3 linked regions of the Homo sapiens genome follow. The protein of the gene in region 1 interacts with the protein of each later gene in a biochemical or structural test. Each region holds a gene or a part of one and is shown in the gene's direction. Other genes may lie near its edges. The genes, in order: CDYL, LIG1 and REST.

What was found.
Region 2: the proteins of CDYL (region 1) and LIG1 interact in a test that uses a peptide from one of them, tested with the Homo sapiens proteins (one study listed by BioGRID).
Region 3: the proteins of CDYL (region 1) and REST form a complex in vitro, tested with the Homo sapiens proteins (one study listed by BioGRID).

The regions. Positions count from the first base shown.
Region 1 is NC_000006.12:4,771,413-4,780,739, forward strand, and holds the start of CDYL (chromodomain Y-like protein), read left to right. Parts: upstream 1-4,991; 5' UTR 4,992-5,371; coding exon 5,372-5,395; intron 5,396-9,327.
Region 2 is NC_000019.10:48,113,513-48,119,131, reverse strand, and holds the end of LIG1 (DNA ligase 1), read left to right. Parts: intron 1-1,350; coding exon 1,351-1,494; intron 1,495-3,166; coding exon 3,167-3,259; intron 3,260-3,399; coding exon 3,400-3,483; 3' UTR 3,484-3,687; downstream 3,688-5,619.
Region 3 is NC_000004.12:56,923,773-56,932,991, forward strand, and holds part of REST (RE1-silencing transcription factor), read left to right. Parts: intron 1-6,068; coding exon 6,069-8,380; 3' UTR 8,381-9,219. UniProt on the Homo sapiens protein: Transcriptional repressor which binds neuron-restrictive silencer element (NRSE) and represses neuronal gene transcription in non-neuronal cells.

The DNA.
Region 1 (9,327 bases):
TGAGTGTTTGCACTTTGAACAAGTCCCAAGGTGATGCCGTTGCTGCTAGTTTGGGGAACCACACTTTGAGAACTTCTACACTAGACAATACTAGTGATTGAAAAAAAATCAAGCCCCACTAAGCGCCTCCAAGTGCTGGTCTGGCCCCAATCTTCCAACTCATTTACACTTTGCTTTAGATTCAACATCCACCTGCTCCTGGGATAATTCTGGGTTCCCCCACTTCTGGTGGGTCTTGTGTTTCTATTTTCCTTACCAGTCAAAATGTCCACACTCATCTCTTGCCTAGTTGTTCTCTCTCTCTCTTTCTCTCTCTGTCTAGAAATGGAAAGGTAAAGACGATACTGGGATGGTCTGACTTGAGAGACAAATGCAATTAATCATCACAATAATTCAAGGGAAAGTTAAACAGTACTTGCTGTTTTTTTCCAGGGATCCAAAATGAGTTAGTTACTGCCTTGGCATAAAGTCAACCAAAATTATGGGAATACCTGTGCCTATTTCCTCTTTATGATTTTTGGTCTTTTTGCTTTCCAAAAATGGGGTAATGTATAAAATTATCAATGAAAAACTTCCTTGCTCTTGCTCATTACTTTAATCAAAAAAAGTTCAACAAGTACATATTACAAGGATTCTCTTGGTAGAACACCATTAGCTAAATAGAAAAAGGAACCGTACTTAAACACTAAATCTAGTTGAAAAAGCAAATGATCCTTAATTGTAGATTGATGAGCTCCGGCCAGTGATGGTATCACAGCCTAAGATGAAATTGGTGAAATCAAATGTTAAGAGGTCTCAGAATTGGCATCACGAGGGCAAAGAGATGAAACAACTAGTGATATCTGGCCAAGGAGCAGCAGTGTGGCAGCTGGCTACTGGCTTCTATATGAAAGAGAGAAATGGTACCTACCTGGGACCAACATGGAGGGCGGCAGGGAGAGGCTGCCCCTCGAAATGGGGAAACTGACTGTTTGGGCAGGGAAGGCAACAGTGACTGAAAAAAGGAATCAGCTGTTATTGGTTGACCAGAAAAAGGTACTGGTATCCACTCTAAGCTTTTAGGGAAGGAAGAACTGGTTGGCTCCCAGTTCAGACAAGGCCCCTAACATCTGAATTAATCTTATAAATGGTTCTGTATGCTTCTTTCTTTTGGGTCTCAGGTTTAAAATGTTCTTTCTTTTGAGTGGGTGATTGAGATGGAAATTCCACCAAGTTTTCTGGAGTAGATACTCTATGACAAGAACGGCATTTAATTTCCCTTCAGCCACTGTGGGTTTAAAACCAACAAACTTAGGTCGCATCTTCATAAAAATCACAATTAAATTTTGGGTTATGGAGGAGGTAACCAGGATAGAATATGCTTTGGGGGTACAAAACTGTTGAAGGGAATCATTATCAGTAGCTTTTCACAGCTACCCAACCATAAAACGCCTTTGGCTCTGAGAATAGTAGTAGCTAGATTTTGGCTTCTTTTGTTTTTTTCTGTCCCATCCCCCATCTCCCCTTGGATGCCTTTGGATTCAAATGTAGATGAAATGCAGATTCTTGGGAGAAAGGAAGACATGCCTGGTTTGGCTGGTGATTGGGAAAAGAGGAGGATCTCAGATTTCAGGTTTTAGTTATCATTCTCCCGAGATGGGAAGAGGCTGTGATTCTTGATCTGAAGAGTCTTATCGTCGGTAGAACTTGCCATCGATGATCAATTGTTTGGATTTGAGGAGGAGAGAATTGAATTATGTTGGCCTACAACAACGGGAGCAGGTCAGGTAAGAATCGTTTATTGCTGGTAGACGTGTCTTTTAATCATGTGTGTATATCGTCTCTCTTGTTGACCACTTCTCTAATCTTTTAAGAGTCATATGTCTTACTAGTGCATGGTATTGTGCTGTATGTATTTTTGCTGCAATCTTCCCGGTGTGCTTAGGGGATGTGATTTCACTTTTATTCTTAAGCCACTGAGAAAATAATAGCACCCACACACGTGGTCATGGAAACTACAGAACTTCACTGTTTCATAAAAGGTGGTGGAAATTCCAAGTCATTAAATAATCTTGGGCATATTTACTTCTGCTATGAGTGCTGGTAAAATGTTTATATAAAAAAGTGACGGAGGAAAGCAAAGTTTGCTTAAAAGTAAGACAAATTGAACGAATGAGGTTAAAATATATATGTATATATAAGCAAAATAGCATTCCATAAATCAGTGAGTTTTAAATGGAGGGCAGATGAAAGGAACAAAGTGGACAATTGAGAACTTCCTCAATTTCTCAGTCGCTAGGTGGATACCCATCTCCTTCGCCAGTGGAAGCCAACTGTCAGAGTGGAGAGGTGGTTGGAACTTAGGAGTATGGCTCACTCCTGCTTTGTTTTAGAGGCTACTGGTGGTTACTCTTAATGTTGTAGACTAAGGATAGCAGCATAAACATTCCAGATTGTCAAGATTGAAAAGCTACGTAAATTGACAAAGGTCTATGTAAATTGACATTTTTGAGTTGCCTTTTTGAGGCTATAATTCTTCCCCTTTTTGTTTCCACAATGGGGAAAATCGCCTTACTAGCTCAATATCTGGATATGTTTGTTGTGGATGTCTATGTTCCTTTCTTTCCCTCTCCTGGGCAACAATGGCAGTTTTGGAGACTCCTTGGAGACCACAGTACCATTACGCACATGGTGGAGCCCCTTGTGAATGCCTAAGCTTGTGGATGTTCTGAAGGGGGCAATAATTGGAGTAATGGTCATGGCGAGAAGTGCTTGTATTTGTATTGGTCCATCATTGCATAATAGGCTTATATGTTATATGTATCTATTTCCTATTGAGGATCTCTTTTTTACAGTTGATTTTTCTTGAGGGATTTTAAACTATCACCTGCCAGTATTTGAGCGCTTGCCGAAGTGTGCACTCAATGCTTTGAGATTTCCCAAATGTATAAAATCCTAGTCCTTGCCTTCAAGGAACTTACAACTTTTGTTGATAAATTGGTAAACCTAGAGAGAAGGCAACAATGAAATGCAGCATATAATGGAAATGCTAAGTGAGAGGAAAGAGGCGCTGTTTGGAGGAGGGAGAGGGAATTGGCTGGGCCATCAGGGAAAGAGGCAGAGCTTGAGGCGCCTTGACCAGTTGATGAAGTGGTGGCTTTAATTTGCGATTCTTGTGCAAACATTTGATAATGGGAATTGGATGTGTAGGTATTGGGCTTTCTCGTGGACACTGAAATTCCATTCATTGAACAACACCTTATTTCCTGTATAGAGAATGGTGCTAGGGGCCAGCGTCAAATTTGAAGATGAAGTCTGACTGAAGGTCATCGTTTGGAGTTGGGGTGGGGTGAAGAGTAGACAAACCTTAAAATACAGAGACGAGTGCTGCAGTGAGCACGCGTGAGTGCTTAGGCAGCGCTTGAAGAGGGAGTTACCGATTTGGCCCTGGAAGTCAGGAAGGCTATCCTTTTAAGGTGATCCCTGAGCTGGGAGTTTGTTTCAAACGGTGGGGACCGCAGGTAGAAGCACCGCTTAAGGGGAACGGCGATTCGACTCGCAGTGACTTAAGGGTTGGCGTGGTGCTTGTTCCTGGGCGTGGGGAGGACAGGAAACCGCGGGGTCTGTGAGACGCCCCGTGGTTGTTGAAACGCTGTTGGGGGGCACAAACGAATAGGGCTTTAGGAAGAAAACTGGTGGGAGGAGCCTTGTGGCTCCAAGGTAGGTTAGGAACTGGAGCGAGATGGAGCACGGAGGAGTGAGGCGGCCCGAAGGATGCCCGGGGAGACATGGAGGAACTGGCGAGGGCTTCCCGATGCAGGGCCTGGGGGAGAGGGTGAACTAATGCCTCTGCAGTGCCCCGTGGGGAAGTTCCGCATACTCGGCCAGAGTGATCGGAGTTGGCGGCTGTCTGGGGGAGTTGGGTCAGGAAGCCCCTTCTTTCGCCACCGATGGGGCACGTCCAGGGCCCGGCAGGTGTGCCCTGGCAGTAGATCTTCCCTGGGAAGTGGAGCGCGGGCCAGCCCTCGCTGTTCTGAGCGAGGGCCTGTCGTGTAGTCCACACCGTTCCGCGAAAGGAACCACCATTGACAGCCTCGTTCGATTAGAACCCGGACCTCCCTGGAATCCAGACTCGGTCCCTTCCCAGCTGCGCTTCGGAGGAGGCGGACGCTCCGAGAGGAACCCAGAGGCCTGGCGTGGGGGGAGCTGCGGGCAGAGCGGAGGCAGCCGCGCCCTCGCGCCGCCCTCCGCCGCGCCCGGCTCCCGCCCCCCGGATCCCACCCCCGGCCTGCCGCGGAGCCAGCGTGCCAGCCGGAGCTCGCCGGGCCACCCCGCGGGGCGCGCGGCCCGGGCTCCGGGTCTTGGCGGCGGCCGGTGGGGCGGGCATGGGGTGGGGTGGGTGCTCCACCTGGCCACGCCGCCGGCCCTTCGCGGGCTGGCCCGGCCCCGGACGGGCGGGCGCACGGAGGCCGCCTCTTGGGCTCCTCCTGGAGGGAGGCGCGCGGTAGACGGCGCGGCCGCTGCCGTCGGGGCGGTGGGCTCCAGACGCGGGCCGGCTCGCTCGCATGGTTCCCTGCCCCATCTCGGGTCCGTCGCTGCCCGTCCTGGTGTGCACAACCGCGCTGCGCCTCGAACCTCGAGGTCCAGGTCCCGCCTGCCCTGGGCCGGGCCGCAAGCGCCCACGTCGAGGCGGGCTGGGGGGCGGTGCCGCGGGCCAGGCCGACCCCGCAAGCGGGACTGGGGAAGTCGGAGCCCCGCCCACCACCCCGCCCCCCGCGCTCGCGGCCCCGCCCCCGACTGCCCCGCTCCTCCCCTTCCTGCCGGCTCGCTCCCGGCCCCGCCGGCCGCCCGCCTCGGCCCCGAGCGGAGCCCACTGCTCCCCTCGGCTGCCCCGCCCCGCCGCCGCCCCGCCCCTCCCGCGCGGGCGGCCCGAAAACCCGGAGCGCGGGAGCGCGGCTCCGCAGGGCCGGGCGGCCGCACTGGGCATGCTCAGTAGCCGGGGCAGGTTTTTTGGTCGCAAGTAGGAAGCTTTCTGCACTACACCGGAGAGGGGAGCCGCGATCCGGCCGCGCCGCCCGCACGCCGCCGCGCCCGCCCCAGCCCGCCCGGCCCCGCGGCGGGGCGCGATGAGCCCGAGCGCGAGCCGGCCCGCCGGGGAGTGAGCGCGGGGCGCCCAGGGCGCGTTGCGTAGCTGCTCCTGCGCACAACCCCGCCGCGCCGCCGGCCCGCACTGGCCGCGGAGTGCAAGAGGCTCGTCCGTGCCCAGCGCCCGGCCGGCCGCGGGAGCAGGAAGCGCAGGCCACGCAGGACCCAACTGAAACAAAGTGTCGGCCGCCCGGCGCCGGCGCCCGCCCCGACCCTGCCCCTCCCGCCCGCAACTCCGCCGCCCACCATGGCTTCCGAGGAGCTGTACGAGGTACCTCCCCTCCCCCCGGCCTCGGGCCGCCCCCCGCCCGCCGCCCCTCCCGGCCCGGCCGCGCCGCCCGACGGCCCCGCTCGCCGCCCGCGCCCGCCGCGTCCCCTCCCCCGCCGCGGCCGCAGTTTGCTGGACGGGAAATGTGTGTGAGGGGAGCCCGAGCCTCCGTTCCGAGGGGCCCCGGCCGGGGGGTCCTGAAGTTGCCGGGCGTGGGGTGGGGGGGGGGGTCCCAGCCGTGGGGAAGTGGTGCTGACACAAGTGACTTGCTCGGACTGAGCTCAAAGTGCTCTTGGCGTGGGTCGTGGAAGTGGTGCCTCCGTTGCCGCTCGGCGGGGACCGTGGGCGGTACGGGGGGTGGGGTGTGGGGGGGTTTCTGGATCATTTGATAAAGCATTTGGGAGAGGGTTTTGCCCCTGGTCGGGGGGTGGCGGGGAGAAGACCGGTGCAAACGCTTTCGACTTTGCTGTTCGCCAAAGCGATGCAAAATCTCGCACCGAAAATGCTAAACGTTGACCACATGCTTTAATTAGGTTAGCATTGTGGCCAGAGCCAGGAAATTTAAATTTAACGCTGATACACCGTCATTCATTTGCGCCGCAGCGTTGCAAATGAGAAGGGCATAGCCAGAACTGTAAGTTCTGGTCGATGGGTTTAAACCAGCTTCAAGTTTGAGAGTTACCAATTTGGATCTTTAGACATGTTTTGTATGTCTCCATGTAACTTCTTTTGACGTATTTCAAAGTAGACTTCCTGGGAGTACAGAAGTTTGGAAGGCTTTCTGTTCTTCTGGATAAATGATTCTCTTGTTTCACATGTATTTATAAATAAGTTCCTAAGAGACTTAAAACTTGCGAAGACTCTCTAGACTCACCTTTATGATGCGTTTAGGGACCTGGGTGTTGAGGGACTTAAGGAAGCATCTGTAACAAGTAGAGCCCTGTGGCCCCAGGGATCCTTTCAGTTGTCTTCTCTTATGGGCGTATTATTGCTGTTGGCATAGAATAGAGCTTTGTTGTCTGCGATGTTAGTCTTCTAGCAACTTTTTTGTTGCTTTTTAAGAGCAAGTGTTTGCAGAAGTTCTCAGGAGGAAGCTGCCATCTGTAGAATTAAGGGTAAGGTTGTTGCTTCTCCTTACATTGTATGTGGTCAGTATACCTTAGCTGGTACTGAAAATGTTCCATTCTTTTCAACCATTTTACACATTAGCTGTGCCCCGCTGTATTCAGGATACTATTTTAGGTCATTTGGGGATGTAAAAGAAGAAAAATCTCCCTGTTCTCAGGAGCTTTCCTTCTAGGAAGGAAAGTGTTGTGTGTCTGGAAGACACAGAAATGGAGGCTAGGATGTTTGAGGTTGAGGTCTTCCAGGTGAAGTCTGTACAGGGGGAAGTACATAGCATGAGGGTATGGGGGATTTTAGTTTCTACATTAGATCATTCTTTGGTTGTTTAGTCATGAGTGTTCACTCTTGGCATTTGCTTTTATGAGTATGATTACATAATCAGTTCCATCAGTGGATGAGAGTAGCACCTTATACGTAAGTTGTATCCTATGTGTGTAAGAATGATTCTGAAGACAGCACATTTCCCATTAGTATATTATGAACTAAGTTTAGTTCCTTCTGTGCTTATTCTATATCTTCAGGTTTCTGTTCCTAACAGAAGTTATTAATGAGTAACATTTTGTACTAAGTTTGTGTTCATTTAACGTTTATTGAATGCTTGCCATATGGAGGTTTCATGGGGAAATACTGAGGTGTGAGAATGGTTCATGCTTTCAAGGAGTGTCTGTTGGGGAGGAAGTAAGTATATTGCAAATAAATGATACACCTGCACAATTGAACTTTTGATTCTGAGTTTTATTTTAGTTTTGGAAAAAAAGGTATTATAGAAGTATAGTTCAGGTGATAAATTTAAGTATGTGTAGTAAATATGTAGTGGTCAGTATCTTTCAAGGCAAAATTTGTAACTTTTCTTTTACTTGTAGGCAACACTGTGACTATGTTACCATTGAAAGTTGACATTGAAAGTTTTGCATGGCAGTTGAGAGCCTAGATTTGGAGTCAGACAACCCAGTTAGTGACTTCCAACTCTATCACCTTGGGTAAATTAGCCTTGAAAGCTCAGTTTCCTCATCTGTGAAATTGGGATCAGTGTTTCCCTTATAGAGCTATGAAGTTTACATGAGAACATATGTAAAGCCCACCCTAAAATTCCCATGGCAAGCACCCAGTAAGTGATGATGATTGTATGGTAACTGGCTTAAAATGCCTCCCTGAAACCTGGTTTTGTTTCTAAAGGTATAGAGTTGTATTGTTTTCATAAAGGCAGTATTATCTGTAGGGCAGAAGTGATACGCAATTGTAAATGAACGCGATAGTCTGACAAGGCTGGGAAAGACACTAAGATGATGTTTTGTGGCCAAGTCAAGGGTTGTTAGTTGCCTTGTTTTGTCCAGTTCTGCCTAAACTGAAATAGAAGTTTTCTGTTTGGCCTCAGGCTCCACAAATCTAGAGGGATATATTGACAGGAGGAAATGTGAAGTCTTGCTTCTTTGAACTCACATGGTCTGGTAGGAGGACAGGTCTGCAGTAACTGGGAACTTGGGTGAGTTACCCAACTGCTGAGCCTTGGTTTTCTCGCCTAAAAGAAATGTCTCCAATACTTAGCATGGAACCTGGTATGTAGTAATAGGTCTTTAGTAAATGTTTAAATGGCTATTGAAACTAGGCTTTGTGAACAAAAAATAAAGGAACAGATCCTGGAAAAGATGGGTAGAGCATGAACCTTGCAAAATTTGAAGAGTTACTATTAGTTGAAGGATGGAATAGATTTACTCCCTACTTTTCCAGCTGCTAGGATTGAGGAAAAACGGATTTTTGATGCGGCGTAGGTTAGAACTTCATAGTTTTCACAAAAAGACAAGCGTCCTTTACATCACGCTTCTAATGTAAAGGGCCAGATAATACATATTTTAGACTTGTGGGTTATATTATGGTCTTTGTTGCAACCACTCAGCTCACCTCATGTAGTGCAAAAGCAGTCGTAGACTCCTATATGAATGTGCGCTGTGTCTCAAACTGCTTATGGATAGTAAAATTCACTTAGTATATTTCATATCATTTTATGTGTCATGAAATACACATTTGTGTTTTTTTTCCAATCACTTACAAATGTAAAAATGATTCCTAACTTGTAGGTTCCACAAAAATAGGCAGTGGGCTGGCTTTGCCCTGTAGGTTGTTGTTTGTTAAGCCCTGCTGTAGGTGATCAACTGTCATAGTCTGTTTAGGAATCTGGGTTTACTCAAGGGTTGGGGATGTATGGAAGTTAGACGGTATTTCTAACTTTCATCCCAGCTCTAGACTTAGAGCTGGAAGATCTGGGTGGTAATCCTCCCTCCTTTCCTCCTTCCTTTCCTTTCTTTCTTTCTCTTTTTTTTTTTCAAGAGTCTTGCTCTATCTCCCAGGCTGATGTGCAGTGGCTTCATGTTGTCAGCTCACTACAACCTCTGCCTCCCGGGTTCAAAGCTATTCTCATGCCTCAGCCTCCTGAGTGGCTGGGATTACAGACGTGCACCACCCCCGCCTACGCCCCCCCCCCCCCGCCCCCGCCCCCGCCCCGGCTAATGTTTTGTATTTTTAGTAGAGACAGGGTTTCACCTTGTGGGCCAGGCTGGTCTCAAACTCCTGGTCTCAAGTGATCCGCCCACCTTGGCCTCCCAAAGTGCTGGGATTACAGGCATGAGTCACTGCACCCGGCCTTCCCTTGTTCTTAGAAGCTTGTTAAGTAACTCATCTTGTACTTGTCTTAACTATCCTAAACTTTCTCATCAGTAAAATAGGAGGATGATAACCAAATAATTGAGGCTTAAATGGCATTAGCGTGTAAAAGCAATTCTACAAAACGTTTTCCATTTTTAAAGAGGAAAAAA
Region 2 (5,619 bases), on another chromosome or scaffold:
CCATGGCGGCTGCGCCTCAGCCTCCACCCCTCTCCCCCCTGCCCCTGACAGCACAGTCCTTCCATGCAGGGCTCTTGGCTTCCACCATCTTGGGGCTCCAGGTGTGGGCAGGAGGGCAGCAGGCAGTGGAGCTGGCTTTGGAGTCCAGCATCTCCAGGTTCATGTCTCAGCACTGCCGGCTACTAGCTGGTGACCCTGCTCAAGCAGCCTCACCTCCCCAAGCCCTGTGCCTCATTCACACCAGGGGTTAGCCAAAGGACACAGCAGGTGCCATAGCTGCTCCTTGTGAAGTGCCTGTGAGCCCTGATCAATGTGAATGAATGTTGTCATGGTCACAGGCATTTCAGGCATGAGTGTCTGTCCTACATATTGGATCTGTATTAGTTTATTTTCATACTCATACTGCTATGAAGAAATAACCCAAGACTTGCCGGGCGTGGTGGCGCATGCCTGTGGTCCCAGCTACTTGGGAGGCTGAGGCAGAAGAATTGCTTGAACCCAGGATGCAGAGGTTGCAGTGAGCTGAAATCATGCCATTGCACTCCAGCCTGGGAAACAGAGTGAGACTCTGTCTCAAAAAAAAAAAAAAAAAAAAAAGGATCATTTATAAAGAGAGGTTTCCTGGACTCACAGTTCCACACGGCTGGGGAGGCCTCACAGTCATGGCAGAAGGCGAAAGAGGAGCAAAGGCACATCTTACATGGCGCCAGGCAAGAGAGCGTGTGCAGGGGAACTGCCCTTTATAAAGCCGTCAGATCTCGTGAGACTTCCTCACTATCACGAGAACAGCACGGGAAAAACCTGCCCCCATCGTTCAGTTACCTCCCACCAGGTCCCTCCACGACACATGGGGATTTTGGGAGCTATGATTCAAGACAAGATGTGGGTGGGGACACACGGACCCTGACACCATCTCTGTCCCACTCTTTGGTTCTCTCTCTCCATTGCCCTCTCTCTCTACATCTCTGTCCCTGTCCCACTGTGTCTCTGTCTCCTTCCTCCAGGTCTCTGGCCCTTTCTCTGCCTCTTTTTGTCTTTAATGTCCTGCCTCAGCCCCCAGGGCCTTTCATTTCTTTCCATCTCCCATTCCTCCCAACTCCCACCTTTCTCAACTTTTTACTTCAAGGGGGTCTTGTTTCTTTTCCCTTCTTTCACTTTCTGTTTCTCTTTCTATTTCTGTTTACTTCAAGGGGGTGTCTTGTTTCTTTTCCCTTATTTCACTTCCTATTTCTGTTTACTTCAAGGGGGTGCCTGTTTTTTTCCCTTCCTCCCTCTCCCCAGCCCTCCAACACTTGGCCTTGACTTTGAGATTCCAGACCCTCTGTTCCTCTCTTCCTCTGCTCACTGCAGGCGCTGGTGCTGCCCAGCCCACGCCCTTACGTGCGGATAGATGGCGCTGTGATTCCCGACCACTGGCTGGACCCCAGCGCTGTGTGGGAGGTGAAGTGCGCTGACCTCTCCCTCTCTCCCATCTACCCTGCTGCGCGGGGCCTGGTGAGTGGCAGAGGACCTGGCCGTGGCCCTGTGTGGGATTCTGGGCGGGCACACAGAGAGCAGAGTAGGGAGGGGACCTTGGCTCACATCTGCTCTTCCAGGTAAGGATCAGGAAGATGAGCTTGCATTTTATTTGAGTGTCAGATAAAAAGATCAAAACATTTTTTCTTTAAAAATGGGCCGGGCATGGGGGCTCGTGCCTGTAATCCCAGCACTTTGGGAGACCGAGGCAGGCAGATCACTTGAGGTCAGGAGTTCAAGGCCAGCCTGGCCAACATGGTGAAACCCCATCTCTACCAAAAATACAAAAATTAGCCATGTGTGATGGCGGGTGCCTGTAGTCCCAGCTACCCAGGAGGCTGAGGCAGGAGAATCGCTTGAACCTGGGAGGCGGAGGTTGCAGTGAGCCGAGATCACACCACTGTACTCCATCCTGGGTGACAAAGCAAGACTCTGTCTCAAAAAAAGAAAAGAAAATTCTTTTCTTAAATAAAAGAATTCCCAGGGCAAGCACAGTGGCTCATGCCTGTAATCCCAGCACTTTGGGAGGCCGAGGCAGGCAGATCACTTGAGGTCAGGAGTTCAAGACCAGCCTGACCAACACGGTGAAACCCCACCTCTACCAAAAAATAGAAAAATTAGCTGGGTATGGTGACCCGTGCCTGTAGAGACGGGGTTTCACCATGTTGACTAGGCTGGTCACAAACACCTGGCCTCAATCCGCCCACCTCGGCCTCCCAAAGTGCTGGGATTACAGGTGTGGGCCACCATGCCCAGCCAAGAACTTACATTTTTGATCTAATTTTTAAAAATGTTTTACCATGCTGCACGTTAGACAGCCAGGGACCCTTAGTAACAAGGCACAGGAGCCGGTGTGTATCCAGCCCTTGCTGTGCAGTGGGCACTGTGTGGTCATCAGCGTGTCACTCATAGACACTCATTTAATCCTCTCAAAATCCGTAAGACGTAGTGACACAAACATCTCCATTTTACGGTGAGGATGTAGAGCCCTAGAGAGCCTGAGTAACTGCCCCTGCATCACGCGGCTCCTGAGAGTTGGGAGCTGGGATTGGAATCCCACAGTCAGATTCTAGAACCCATACCCTGGCGCCGTAGTTCAGCCTCTCAGCCCGAATTACCGTCATTATCGTAACGGCTGTAGCAGGTGGCATTTTTTTTTTTTTTTTTTTGAGTTGGAGTCTCGCTCTGTCACCCAGGCTGGAGTACAGTGGCGCAATCTCAGCTCACTGCAAGCTCCCCACCTCCCGGATTCACGCCATTCTCCTGCCTCAGCTTCCTGAGTAGCTGGGACTACAGGCGCCCGCCACCACACCTGGCTAATTTCTTTTTGTATTTTTAGTAGAGGCGGGGTTTCACCGTGTTAGCCAGGATAGTCTCCATCTCCTGACCTCGTGATCCACCCGCCTCGGCCTCCCAAAGTGCTGGGATTACAGGGGTGAGCCACCGCACCCGGCCAACAGGCAGCATTTCTTGAGCACTTACTGTGCCCGGGTACTGTTCCAAGCACTTTGTCAACTTGTTTAATCCTTATGACAACCCATCGTTCGGCCCCGTCATGTGGATCAGGAAACAGTCCAGAGTGGAGGAGGGAGGAGACTGAGCAGGGGGTCGCTGGGGCTGGACCGCAGGAGTCTCCATCCCGCTTCCGCAGGTGGATAGTGACAAGGGCATCTCCCTTCGCTTCCCTCGGTTTATTCGAGTCCGTGAAGACAAGCAGCCGGAGCAGGCCACCACCAGTGCTCAGGTGAGGTCCTGGGAAGCAGGGGTGGGCCGCCCAGCTGCTTGGCCCTACCAGCTTTTTAGCGTGGTGGCCTCTCTGGAACCTTGTGGAGGTGGGAGCAGCCAGGGAGCTTCTGACCACCCCGTCCCACCCTCTCTCCGCAGGTGGCCTGTTTGTACCGGAAGCAAAGTCAGATTCAGAACCAACAAGGCGAGGACTCAGGCTCTGACCCTGAAGATACCTACTAAGCCCTCGCCCTCCTAGGGCCTGGGTACAGGGCATGAGTTGGACGGACCCCAGGGTTATTATTGCCTTTGCTTTTTAGCAAATCTGCTGTGGCAGGCTGTGGATTTTGAGAGTCAGGGGAGGGGTGTGTGTGTGAGGGGGTGGCTTACTCCGGAGTCTGGGATTCATCCCGTCATTTCTTTCAATAAATAATTATTGGATAGCTACTTTGTGACAGGGTCTGTGCTGGGCTCTGGGGGCAAAGCTGTCATGGGTGTCACCTGCATAGCATGTAGCCATGTAGCCATGGCCTAGGAACTGCCAGAGCCAGTGCCAGCCATGGAACTGCCTGCAGTGGTGGGCGTCTTCTCTATCTGCTCTGTGCAGTGTGACCGCCACTGGCCACCTGCAATGCCCGAGCCCTTGACAGGTGGCCAGCATGACAGAGGATGCGAATTTGTTTTGTTTTGTTTTGTTTTGATTTTGTTTTGAGACAGAGTCTCGCTCTGTTGCCCAGGCTGGAGTGCGATGATGAGATCTCAGCTCACTGCAACCTCCACCTTCCGGGTTCAAGTGATTCTCTTGCCTCAGCCTCCCATGTAGCTGGGATTACAGGAATGTGACACCACGCCTGGCTAATTTTTGTATTTTTAGTAGAGATGGGGTTTCGCCATGTTGGCCAGGCTGATCTTGAACTCTTGGCCTCAAGCGATCCACCCTCCTCAGCCCCCCTAAGTGCTGGGATTACAGGCGTGAGCCACCACACCCAGCCATACCAAATATTTTATTTAATTGTATTGGACAGCAGTAGTCTAAAATCTTTACATACATATATTTTTTAACTTGTTTAACCTTCCAGCCATCCCACAGGGAGGCACCATCGTGAGCCCTGTTAAGGAAGACAAATGCAGTGTCTTAAAATAACACAGATGTATTCCCTAAACAGTTTCGGAGGTCAGAAGTTCAAAATCAGTTTTACTGGGCTAACATCAAAGTGGTGGCAGGGCCGGTTCCTTCTGGGAGCTCCAGGAGAGAAACTGTGTCCTTTTTCCAGCTTCCAGAGGCCACCTGGTTCCTAGGCTCATGGCTTCTTCCTCCGTCCTCAAAGCCAGCAGCATCGCACCTGCAAATCTCTCTCCTGAGGTCATCAGGTCACGTCCTCTCCTCCATCAGATCTCTGTTTCTCTCTTCCAAGTACTCAAGTGGTTACATTTAGGGCCCCCTGGATGATCCAGGATAATCTCATTTCAGGATCCTAACTCAATCCCAAAGTCCCTTTAGTCACATAAGATCACACATTCACAGAGGCCAGGCACAGTGGCTCACGCCTTGGGGAGGACTTGGGGAGGCTGAGGTGGGAGGATCACTTGAAGCCAGGAGTTCAAGACTAGCTTGTCCAACACAGCCAGACTTCATCTCCTCTAATTTTATTAATAAAATTAATAAAAATGTAAAAGGGCCAGGCGCGGTGGCTCACGCATGTAATCCCAGCACTTTGGGAGGCTGAGGCAGGTGGATCACCTGAGGTCAGGAGTTCGAGACCAGCCTGGCCAACATGGCAAAACCCCGTCTCTACTAAAAATACAAAAATTAGCTGGGCATGGTGGCGCGTGCCTGTAATCCCAGCTACTAGTGGGGTGAGGCAGGAGGATCACTTGAATCTGGGAGACAGGTTGCAGTGACCCGAGATCGTGCCACTGCATTCCAGCCTGGGCGACAGAGCGAGACTCCATCTCAAAAAAAAAAAAAAAATAGGTCACATCAAAGGTTTCAGCGATTAAGACCTGGATATCTATGGGGGCTGTTATTATTGCAGCCACCCCACATGGGATGATATGTTAGAGGAAAACCATCGGGAAATGGTCAGACAAGGCAAGCAGGATGCCTGGAACACCCACCCAGCCCTGGGCACCACGGGGCTGGCTTGGGGAAAACGGCTGCACGCGGAGCGGGGCCCAGGCTCGGGTCTTCCAGAGCAGGAGGCCTCTAACCCCGGGGCCCAGCGTGGAACAGGAGCTTCCGGGCATGAGAGTGTCAGGGTGTCCTGATACTCCCGCAGGGGGGACACAGGGCTCCCAGCTGTCCCCTGCCCCTCACACTCTGTTTCTGCCTCTCACATCTGCCCTCCCTCCTTCCCTTCTCTCTCATCAGGTTCCTCT
Region 3 (9,219 bases), on another chromosome or scaffold:
GTGCAATGGTGCGACCTCGGCTCACTGCAACCTCCACCTCCTAGGTTCAAGCGATTCTCCTGCCTCAGCCTCCCTAGTATCTGGGACTACAGGCTCGTGCCACCATGCCAGGCTAATTTTTTGTATTTTTAGTAGAGACGGGGTTTCACCATGTTAGCCAGGATAGTCTTGATCTCCTGACCTCATGATCTGCCCGCCTCAGCCTCCCAAAGTGCTGGGATTACAGGCGTGAGCCACCACACCCGGCCAATATCCTATTTCTTTCTATGGAGACTGGGTCTTGCTGTGTTGCCCAGGCTGGCCTCAAACTCCTGGCCTCAAGCAGTTCTCTTGTCTCAGCCTCCCAAAGTGTTGGGATTACAGGTTTGAGTCACTGTGCCCAGACAGACATGTTTTATTTTTTTCTGTTGATAACGTTGGTGCCAAGGGACTTTTAAATAGCTGGGATTGTTTGAAAGATATTGTGATGGCTTGAGAGTCTTTGTAGAATAAATTTTAAAAACTATTTTATTGAGATATAATTTATAAATTTAAAAATGCACAGGTCTTGAGTGTACAGCTCAGTGACTATGCTTTCACCTATTTGATTATCACTCAAGAACAAGAGATGGAATATTTCTGCTCAGAAACACCTTGCCCTTTCCACCCAGTCTTTCCCCTGGATGATATTCTGTCTCCTACCAAAGAACATTATAGAATTTGTTTGTTTGAGGTGGGATCTCACTCTGTCACTCAGGGTGGAGTGCAGTGGGTGCAGTTACAGCTGTCTAAACCTCTTGGGCTCAGGCAGTCCTGCCACCTTAACCTCCCAAGTAGCTGGGACCACAGGTGTGCGCTACCATGCCTGTTTTTTTTTTTTCTTTCTTTTTTGTAGAGATGGAGTCTTACTATGTTGGCCCAGGCTGGTTTTGAACTCCTGGGCTCAAGCGATCCACTTGCCTCACCCTACCAAAGTGCTAGGAGTACAGGCATGAGCCACTGCACCTAGTTTTAGAACATTCTTTTATAAAATGTTCTTGAGATTTATCCATGTTGCGTTATTGGACTTCATTTTATTGCTGGTAATGTATTGTATGCCGCCATTACTTTTTACTTAAAAATTTTCTTTGCCGGCTATGCACGGTTGTTCACACCTGTAATCCTAGCGCTTTGGGAAACCATGGTGAGCGGATCATCGGAGGTCAGAAGTTCAAGACCAGGCTGGCCAACATGGTGGTACCCCATCTCTGCTAAAATACAAAAATTAGCCTGGCATGATGGCGGGTGCCTGTAATCCCAGCTACTCCGGAGGCTGAGACAGGAGAATCACTTGAACCCGGGAGACGGTGGTTGCAGTGAGCCGAGATTGCGCCATTGCACTCCAGCCTGGGCAGCTGAGCGAGACTCAGTCTCAAAAAAAAAAAAAAAAAAAATTTCTTTGCCATTCTCTCTTGGTTTTTGTTTTGTTTTGTTTTTATTTTTAAGGGAATTAATTTAAAAACTTAAATTGAGAGGCTTGTATTTGTGTATTTTTCACTGCGGCTTTAACCTCCTAGGCTCAAACGATCCTCCCACCTCAGCCTCTGGAGTAGGTGGCACTGTAGGCTTGTGCTATAACATGTGGCTAATTTAAAAATTTTTTTGTACACAGGGTCTCACTAGGTTGCCCAGACTGGTCTCAACCTCCTTAGCTCAAGCAATCTTCCTCACCTCATCCTCCCAAAAGTGCTAGGATTACGGGTGTGAACCACTATGCCTGGCCATTCTTCTAAGAATATTTTTGATACGTATGTGTAAAGCTTGCAGAACTCTTTCCCCTTTTGTCTTGGCTTACACCTATAAATTCATTTCGGAGGCATAAAACAGACAATTGGTAGATTTATAAAGAAGAGAACCTGTTACTAGAATTGGGAAAAAGAATTTAAAATTGTTTGTACAGGGCAAAAGTTAATATTCAGGTAGGTACTAATTAGAAAATCTTGATGAATATATTTTAATATAAGCAAGACTTCATGGCAATAAAGTAAAAATTACGGGAGAAAAAGAACGGAGCAAATAAATCATGCCATCAAATTTTAAACAGAAAATTTCTACATCCTCCCTTTCCGTTCACCATTCCTTAGGTGGACCCTCGCACCTTGATGGATGCATGCTTGCTCTATAGATCTCCTTATTCATCAGAGTTATAAAATGGTGCTATTTTAATTATAGTTATTTTATTAGTGTGTAAATATGAAGAGAAGAGATAAATTCCACTTATCTATTTACTCATGATGTAGGAAAGACAGGATACGTAAGAGTCTTCCCCTTGATTGATCGATTGATTGAGATGGAGTCTCACCCTGTCGTCCAGGCTGGAGTGCAATGGCACGATTTCAGCTCACTGTAACCTCCGCCTCCTGGGTTCAAGTGATTCTCCTGCCTCAGCCTCCCGAGTAGCTGGGATTACAGGCATGCACCACCACGCCTGGCTAAGTTTTTGTATCTTTAGTAGAGATGGGGTTTCACCATATTGGCCAGACTGGTCTCCGGCTCCTGGTCTCCAACTCCTGACCTCTTGATTCGCCTGCCTCGGCTTCCCAAAGTGCTGGGATTACAGGCGTGAGCCACTGCGCCCAGCCTTTTTTATTTATTTATTTTTTTGAGATGGAGTCTTGCTCTGTTGCCCAGGCTGGAGTGCAGTAGTGCGATCTCGGCTCACTGCACCCTCTGCCTCCCGGGTTCAAGGGATTCTCCTGCCTCAGCCTCCCAAGTAGCTGGGACTGTAGGCACGCATCACCACGCCTAGCTAATTTTTTTGTATTTTTACAAAATGCCTCCCCAAATTTTATATTTTTACAAAAATGCCTCCCAAAGTTTTGGGACTACAGGCGTGACCCACCGCGCCCTGCTGAGTCTTCCCTTTTATTTATCCATACTCAAAGTTACCAATTGGTTCCAAAAGTGAACAATTATAGGTAACACATTTTGAGTTCTTGCTGTCTGCTCCATGTTAAGGACTTTACATAGATTAGATTATTTATAGCTCACAACACTTAGAGAGTATTTTATAGATGAAATTGAGGCCGGGCGCGGTGGCTCACGCCTGTAATCCCAGCACTTTGGGAGGCCGAGGAGGGTGGATCACCTGAGATCAGGAGTTCGAGACCAGCCTGATCAACATGGAGAAATGCCGTCTCTACTAAAAATACAAAATTAGCCAGGCTTAGTGGCACATGCCTGTAATCCCAGCTACTAGGGAAGGTGAGGCAGGAGAATCGCTTGAACCTGGGAGGCGGGGGTTGCAGTGAGCCGAGATCGCGCCATTGCACTCCAGACTGGGCAACAAGAGTGAAACTCCATCTCAAGAAAAAAAAAAAAGAAAGAAATTGAACTCTAGAGAGGTTTCAGGACTTTGCTCAAAGTCTCAGAGTGAGCAACTTGCAGAGCTCATGTTTTATCTCCCAGATGGTCTAGCTCTATCTAGAAGTTCTTAGGCCTTATGCTACCTATCTTTCTACATTCTATGTCCACGTATGTTAAAATGTTTGTCTCCATTTAAATCATTCACTGGAGAGAACCAGGTATAGAGTAATGTAGCATGTTGTAGAAACTTGCATATTTGTAAATCTGTTAGTAGACCAACATGGAGAAGAATTGTCCAGTCAGCTGAATATCTAATTTGACTACCTGGATAAGGTGATTATTTTATCACCAGGCATTTTCTAATCATGTAAAACTTAACATCTACATGGTTTTACCTAATGTCTGAGTTTTGCTTTATGAAAATTTTTAGTACAATTTGATATGAATTTGAGAATGTTTGAGATGAATTTTCATAAATGTCAATTTCCGTTTTTCTACTATGCATTCCATTGGACCAGTGGGGTATGGATACCATTTGGTAATATTTACTAGAGTGTGATCTAGATGGGTATGTATTCAGGTAGAATGTATTACTCTTATGCCTTTAATTTGGGGGTGGGGGTTCTGGTTTTTTATGTATCAGTGATTGTGACTTTGCTTATTTTACATACCATATCTATTTGTGTGCCACTTCTCATTACCTAGTTCCTTTATGTATTTTATAGAAAGGTGGGGGGAAAATCAAGAAAGTTTTCTGAATAATTACCTTGGCCTATATTTTTGCTTTAAAATAGCAATGCTAGCGCAGGAAGTTTGCTAAGTGAAAATTTACTCAGCTCTTGCCATGACGGACAGAAGGATTAAATTTCAAGAAAAAGCCTTTGCTCAGACTAAAGCAGAATTTCAAAACTTTTGCACCTAGGATCTGGGAGTATCGCCCAGAGTGAAAGATATTTTTCTCAAGATTTACCATAAGAAATTTAGGGTGGAGGGAGTATGGGAATTTTATTTTATTTTTATTTATTTTTGAGACGAAGTTTCGCTCTTGTCGCCCAGGCTGTAGTGCAGTGGTGCGATCTTGGCTCACTGTAATCTTGCCTTCTGGGTCCAAGCAATTCTCCTTCTTCAGCCTCCTGAGTAGCTGGGATTACAGGCATCTGCCACTACACCCGGCTAATTTTTTGTATTTTTAGTAGAAACAGGGTTTCACCATGTTGGCCAGGCTGGTCTTGAACTCCTGACCTCAGGTGATCCACTGCCTTCGCCTCCCAAAGTGCTGGGATTACAGGTGTGAGCCACCACACCTGGCTGGGAATTTTATTTATTGATGTATTTTTGAGACAGGGCCTTGCCCTGTTGCCCAGGTTGGAGTACAGTAACACATTCACAACTCCATGCTACTTCAGATTCCTGGGCTTAAGTGGTCCTCCCGCCTTTGCCTCCCAAGTAGCTGGGACTGCAGGTGCACTCCACCATGCCTGGCTAATTTTTTTTTTTTTTTCTTTTTGTGAGACAAAGTCTTACTGTCGCCCAGGCTGAAGTGAAGTGGTGGGATCTCAGCTGACTGCAACCTCCGCCTCCTGAGTTAAAGCAATTCTCGTGTCTCAGCCTCCCTAGTAGGTGGGATTACTGGCATGCAACACCACGCCCAGCTAAATTTTTTTATATTTTTAGTAGAGATGGGGTTTTACTATGTTGGCCAGGCTTGCCTTGAACTCCTGACCTCAGGTGATCCACCTGCCTTGGCCTCCCAAAGTGCTGGGATTTACAGGTGTGAGCTACCGCACCTGGCTGGGAATTTTATGTATTGATTTATTTTTGAGACAGGGCCTTGCTCTGTTGCCCAGGTTGGAGTTCAGTAGCACATTCACAACTCACTGCTACTTCAAATTCCTGGGCTTAAGCGGTCCTCCCGCCTTTGCCTCCCGAGTAGCTAGGACTACAGGTGCACTCCACTATGCCTGGCTAATTTTTTTTTTTTTTTTTTCTTTGAGACACAGTCTCGCTGTCACCTAGGCTGGAGTGAAGTAGTGCGATCTCAGCTCACTGCAACCTCTGCCTCCTGGGTTAAAGCAATTCTCGTGTCTCAGCCTCCTGAATAGGTGGGATTACTGGTGTGCAACACCACGCCCAGCTAATTTTTTTTGTATTTTTAGTAGAGATGGGGTTTCACCGTGTTGGCCAGGCTGGTTTCAAACTCCTGGCCTCAAGGTATCCGCCCACCTTGGCCTCCCAAAGTTAATTTTGTTTTGATTTATTTTGCTCAGGTTGTTCTCTAATTCCTGGGCTCAAGCAGTCCTTCTGCCATGGCCTCCCAGAGAGTTGAGGTTATAGTTGTGAGCCACTGCACCTGGCCAGAATTTTATTTTCTACTCCATTAGGCATTTAACTAAACACACAAAAAAATTTTTAAGTTGATAATATTCCTCCAAATTAACATCCAGAGCCCAATTGAACTTTGCCAATATGTGTATGTCTTAAAGAATCTCTGTTCTTTAGTAGTGCTTGAGGACTCTAACTTGAACTTTTTTGAAGCTTGTGGTTAACTGAGATTTATTCCTCTCTTTTGAGAATCAATGTCAAGGGATAGAGAAATGTTATACAAATAAATATGGTAAATGTAAGGTGCATGATACAGCATTTTAAATAGTCTTTGTTGTTACTTTACATATACAGTTCTTTATATTTTAATCTTGAATTTGTCTTAATCTATGTCTTCTCTCATACTTTTGATTTGCCTTCAGGTGAGAAGCCATTTAAATGTGATCAGTGCAGTTATGTGGCCTCTAATCAACATGAAGTAACCCGCCATGCAAGACAGGTTCACAATGGGCCTAAACCTCTTAATTGCCCACACTGTGATTACAAAACAGCAGATAGAAGCAACTTCAAAAAACATGTAGAGCTACATGTGAACCCACGGCAGTTCAATTGCCCTGTATGTGACTATGCAGCTTCCAAGAAGTGTAATCTACAGTATCACTTCAAATCTAAGCATCCTACTTGTCCTAATAAAACAATGGATGTCTCAAAAGTGAAACTAAAGAAAACCAAAAAACGAGAGGCTGACTTGCCTGATAATATTACCAATGAAAAAACAGAAATAGAACAAACAAAAATAAAAGGGGATGTGGCTGGAAAGAAAAATGAAAAGTCCGTCAAAGCAGAGAAAAGAGATGTCTCAAAAGAGAAAAAGCCTTCTAATAATGTGTCAGTGATCCAGGTGACTACCAGAACTCGAAAATCAGTAACAGAGGTGAAAGAGATGGATGTGCATACAGGAAGCAATTCAGAAAAATTCAGTAAAACTAAGAAAAGCAAAAGGAAGCTGGAAGTTGACAGCCATTCTTTACATGGTCCTGTGAATGATGAGGAATCTTCAACAAAAAAGAAAAAGAAGGTAGAAAGCAAATCCAAAAATAATAGTCAGGAAGTGCCAAAGGGTGACAGCAAAGTGGAGGAGAATAAAAAGCAAAATACTTGCATGAAAAAAAGTACAAAGAAGAAAACTCTGAAAAATAAATCAAGTAAGAAAAGCAGTAAGCCTCCTCAGAAGGAACCTGTTGAGAAGGGATCTGCTCAGATGGACCCTCCTCAGATGGGGCCTGCTCCCACAGAGGCGGTTCAGAAGGGGCCCGTTCAGGTGGAGCCGCCACCTCCCATGGAGCATGCTCAGATGGAGGGTGCCCAGATACGGCCTGCTCCTGACGAGCCTGTTCAGATGGAGGTGGTTCAGGAGGGGCCTGCTCAGAAGGAGCTGCTGCCTCCCGTGGAGCCTGCTCAGATGGTGGGTGCCCAAATTGTACTTGCTCACATGGAGCTGCCTCCTCCCATGGAGACTGCTCAGACGGAGGTTGCCCAAATGGGGCCTGCTCCCATGGAACCTGCTCAGATGGAGGTTGCCCAGGTAGAATCTGCTCCCATGCAGGTGGTCCAGAAGGAGCCTGTTCAGATGGAGCTGTCTCCTCCCATGGAGGTGGTCCAGAAGGAGCCTGTTCAGATAGAGCTGTCTCCTCCCATGGAGGTGGTCCAGAAGGAACCTGTTAAGATAGAGCTGTCTCCTCCCATAGAGGTGGTCCAGAAGGAGCCTGTTCAGATGGAGTTGTCTCCTCCCATGGGGGTGGTTCAGAAGGAGCCTGCTCAGAGGGAGCCACCTCCTCCCAGAGAGCCTCCCCTTCACATGGAGCCAATTTCCAAAAAGCCTCCTCTCCGAAAAGATAAAAAGGAAAAGTCTAACATGCAGAGTGAAAGGGCACGGAAGGAGCAAGTCCTTATTGAAGTTGGCTTAGTGCCTGTTAAAGATAGCTGGCTTCTAAAGGAAAGTGTAAGCACAGAGGATCTCTCACCACCATCACCACCACTGCCAAAGGAAAATTTAAGAGAAGAGGCATCAGGAGACCAAAAATTACTCAACACAGGTGAAGGAAATAAAGAAGCCCCTCTTCAGAAAGTAGGAGCAGAAGAGGCAGATGAGAGCCTACCTGGTCTTGCTGCTAATATCAACGAATCTACCCATATTTCATCCTCTGGACAAAACTTGAATACGCCAGAGGGTGAAACTTTAAATGGTAAACATCAGACTGACAGTATAGTTTGTGAAATGAAAATGGACACTGATCAGAACACAAGAGAGAATCTCACTGGTATAAATTCAACAGTTGAAGAACCAGTTTCACCAATGCTTCCCCCTTCAGCAGTAGAAGAACGTGAAGCAGTGTCCAAAACTGCACTGGCATCACCTCCTGCTACAATGGCAGCAAATGAGTCTCAGGAAATTGATGAAGATGAAGGCATCCACAGCCATGAAGGAAGTGACCTAAGTGACAACATGTCAGAGGGTAGTGATGATTCTGGATTGCATGGGGCTCGGCCAGTTCCACAAGAATCTAGCAGAAAAAATGCAAAGGAAGCCTTGGCAGTCAAAGCGGCTAAGGGAGATTTTGTTTGTATCTTCTGTGATCGTTCTTTCAGAAAGGGAAAAGATTACAGCAAACACCTCAATCGCCATTTGGTTAATGTGTACTATCTTGAAGAAGCAGCTCAAGGGCAGGAGTAATGAAACTTTGAACAAGGTTTCAGTTCTTAGTTTGTAAGGTATATTACATTTTATATTCATTTATGATAGCAGACAACCTTTTAAGATTGCTTTAATTAGTATCTGATGTTGATTTTTAAGTGGCATTCTTTTCCTTAGGACTTTTTATGTATACCTGTTGATTGTTGTGTAAATTTTAGTAAATCTAAGAGAGTGTACTAAACCAGCAGGTATCTGTTAGCTTATGTGTTTAATTGAAATTAGAAGGCTAAGATGGTATAACAGCATTTTATTGCTTTGTCCAGCTACAACTTGTCATTTTTTTCTCCATGTCTTATCTTCCTGTTTCACTTTAGTTTATTCTTCGTTTTTTATTGAGATCTATAAAAAATTGGCTTACTTAATAGCAAATTACTTGAAGAATTTGCCTGCTTTATATAAAGTTAGCACTTTAAGATTTTTTTTTTTAGAGATGAGAAGACATTTAAATTGAAGAAAAATTCCCCCAGCAATAGACAGTCTATCAGTCCAAGTATTTACTTCCTGAGTTTTGATCAATATTTTTTATTTGTGTATGTTAATCGTCATAAAAACAGTGATTTTGGTGTGTTTTTTATTTTGGTGCTTTAATGGCTTAAGATGTTGCACATTTTTTTTTTCTTTTGGTTTCTGTTTATGTTTTTTTGCCTATGCAGTTAAATTTTTCCTAGAAATAGCATTTGTGTTGAACAGTAACACTTTATACATATATATATGCATGTTTATTTTGTTTGGCGTCTTTGGAGGGATGCTTTTAGACTTGTTTGCAAAAGGGCAGTTTTCTTTTTCTTTGCTGCAGTTGTCTATTTTGCAGAATAATA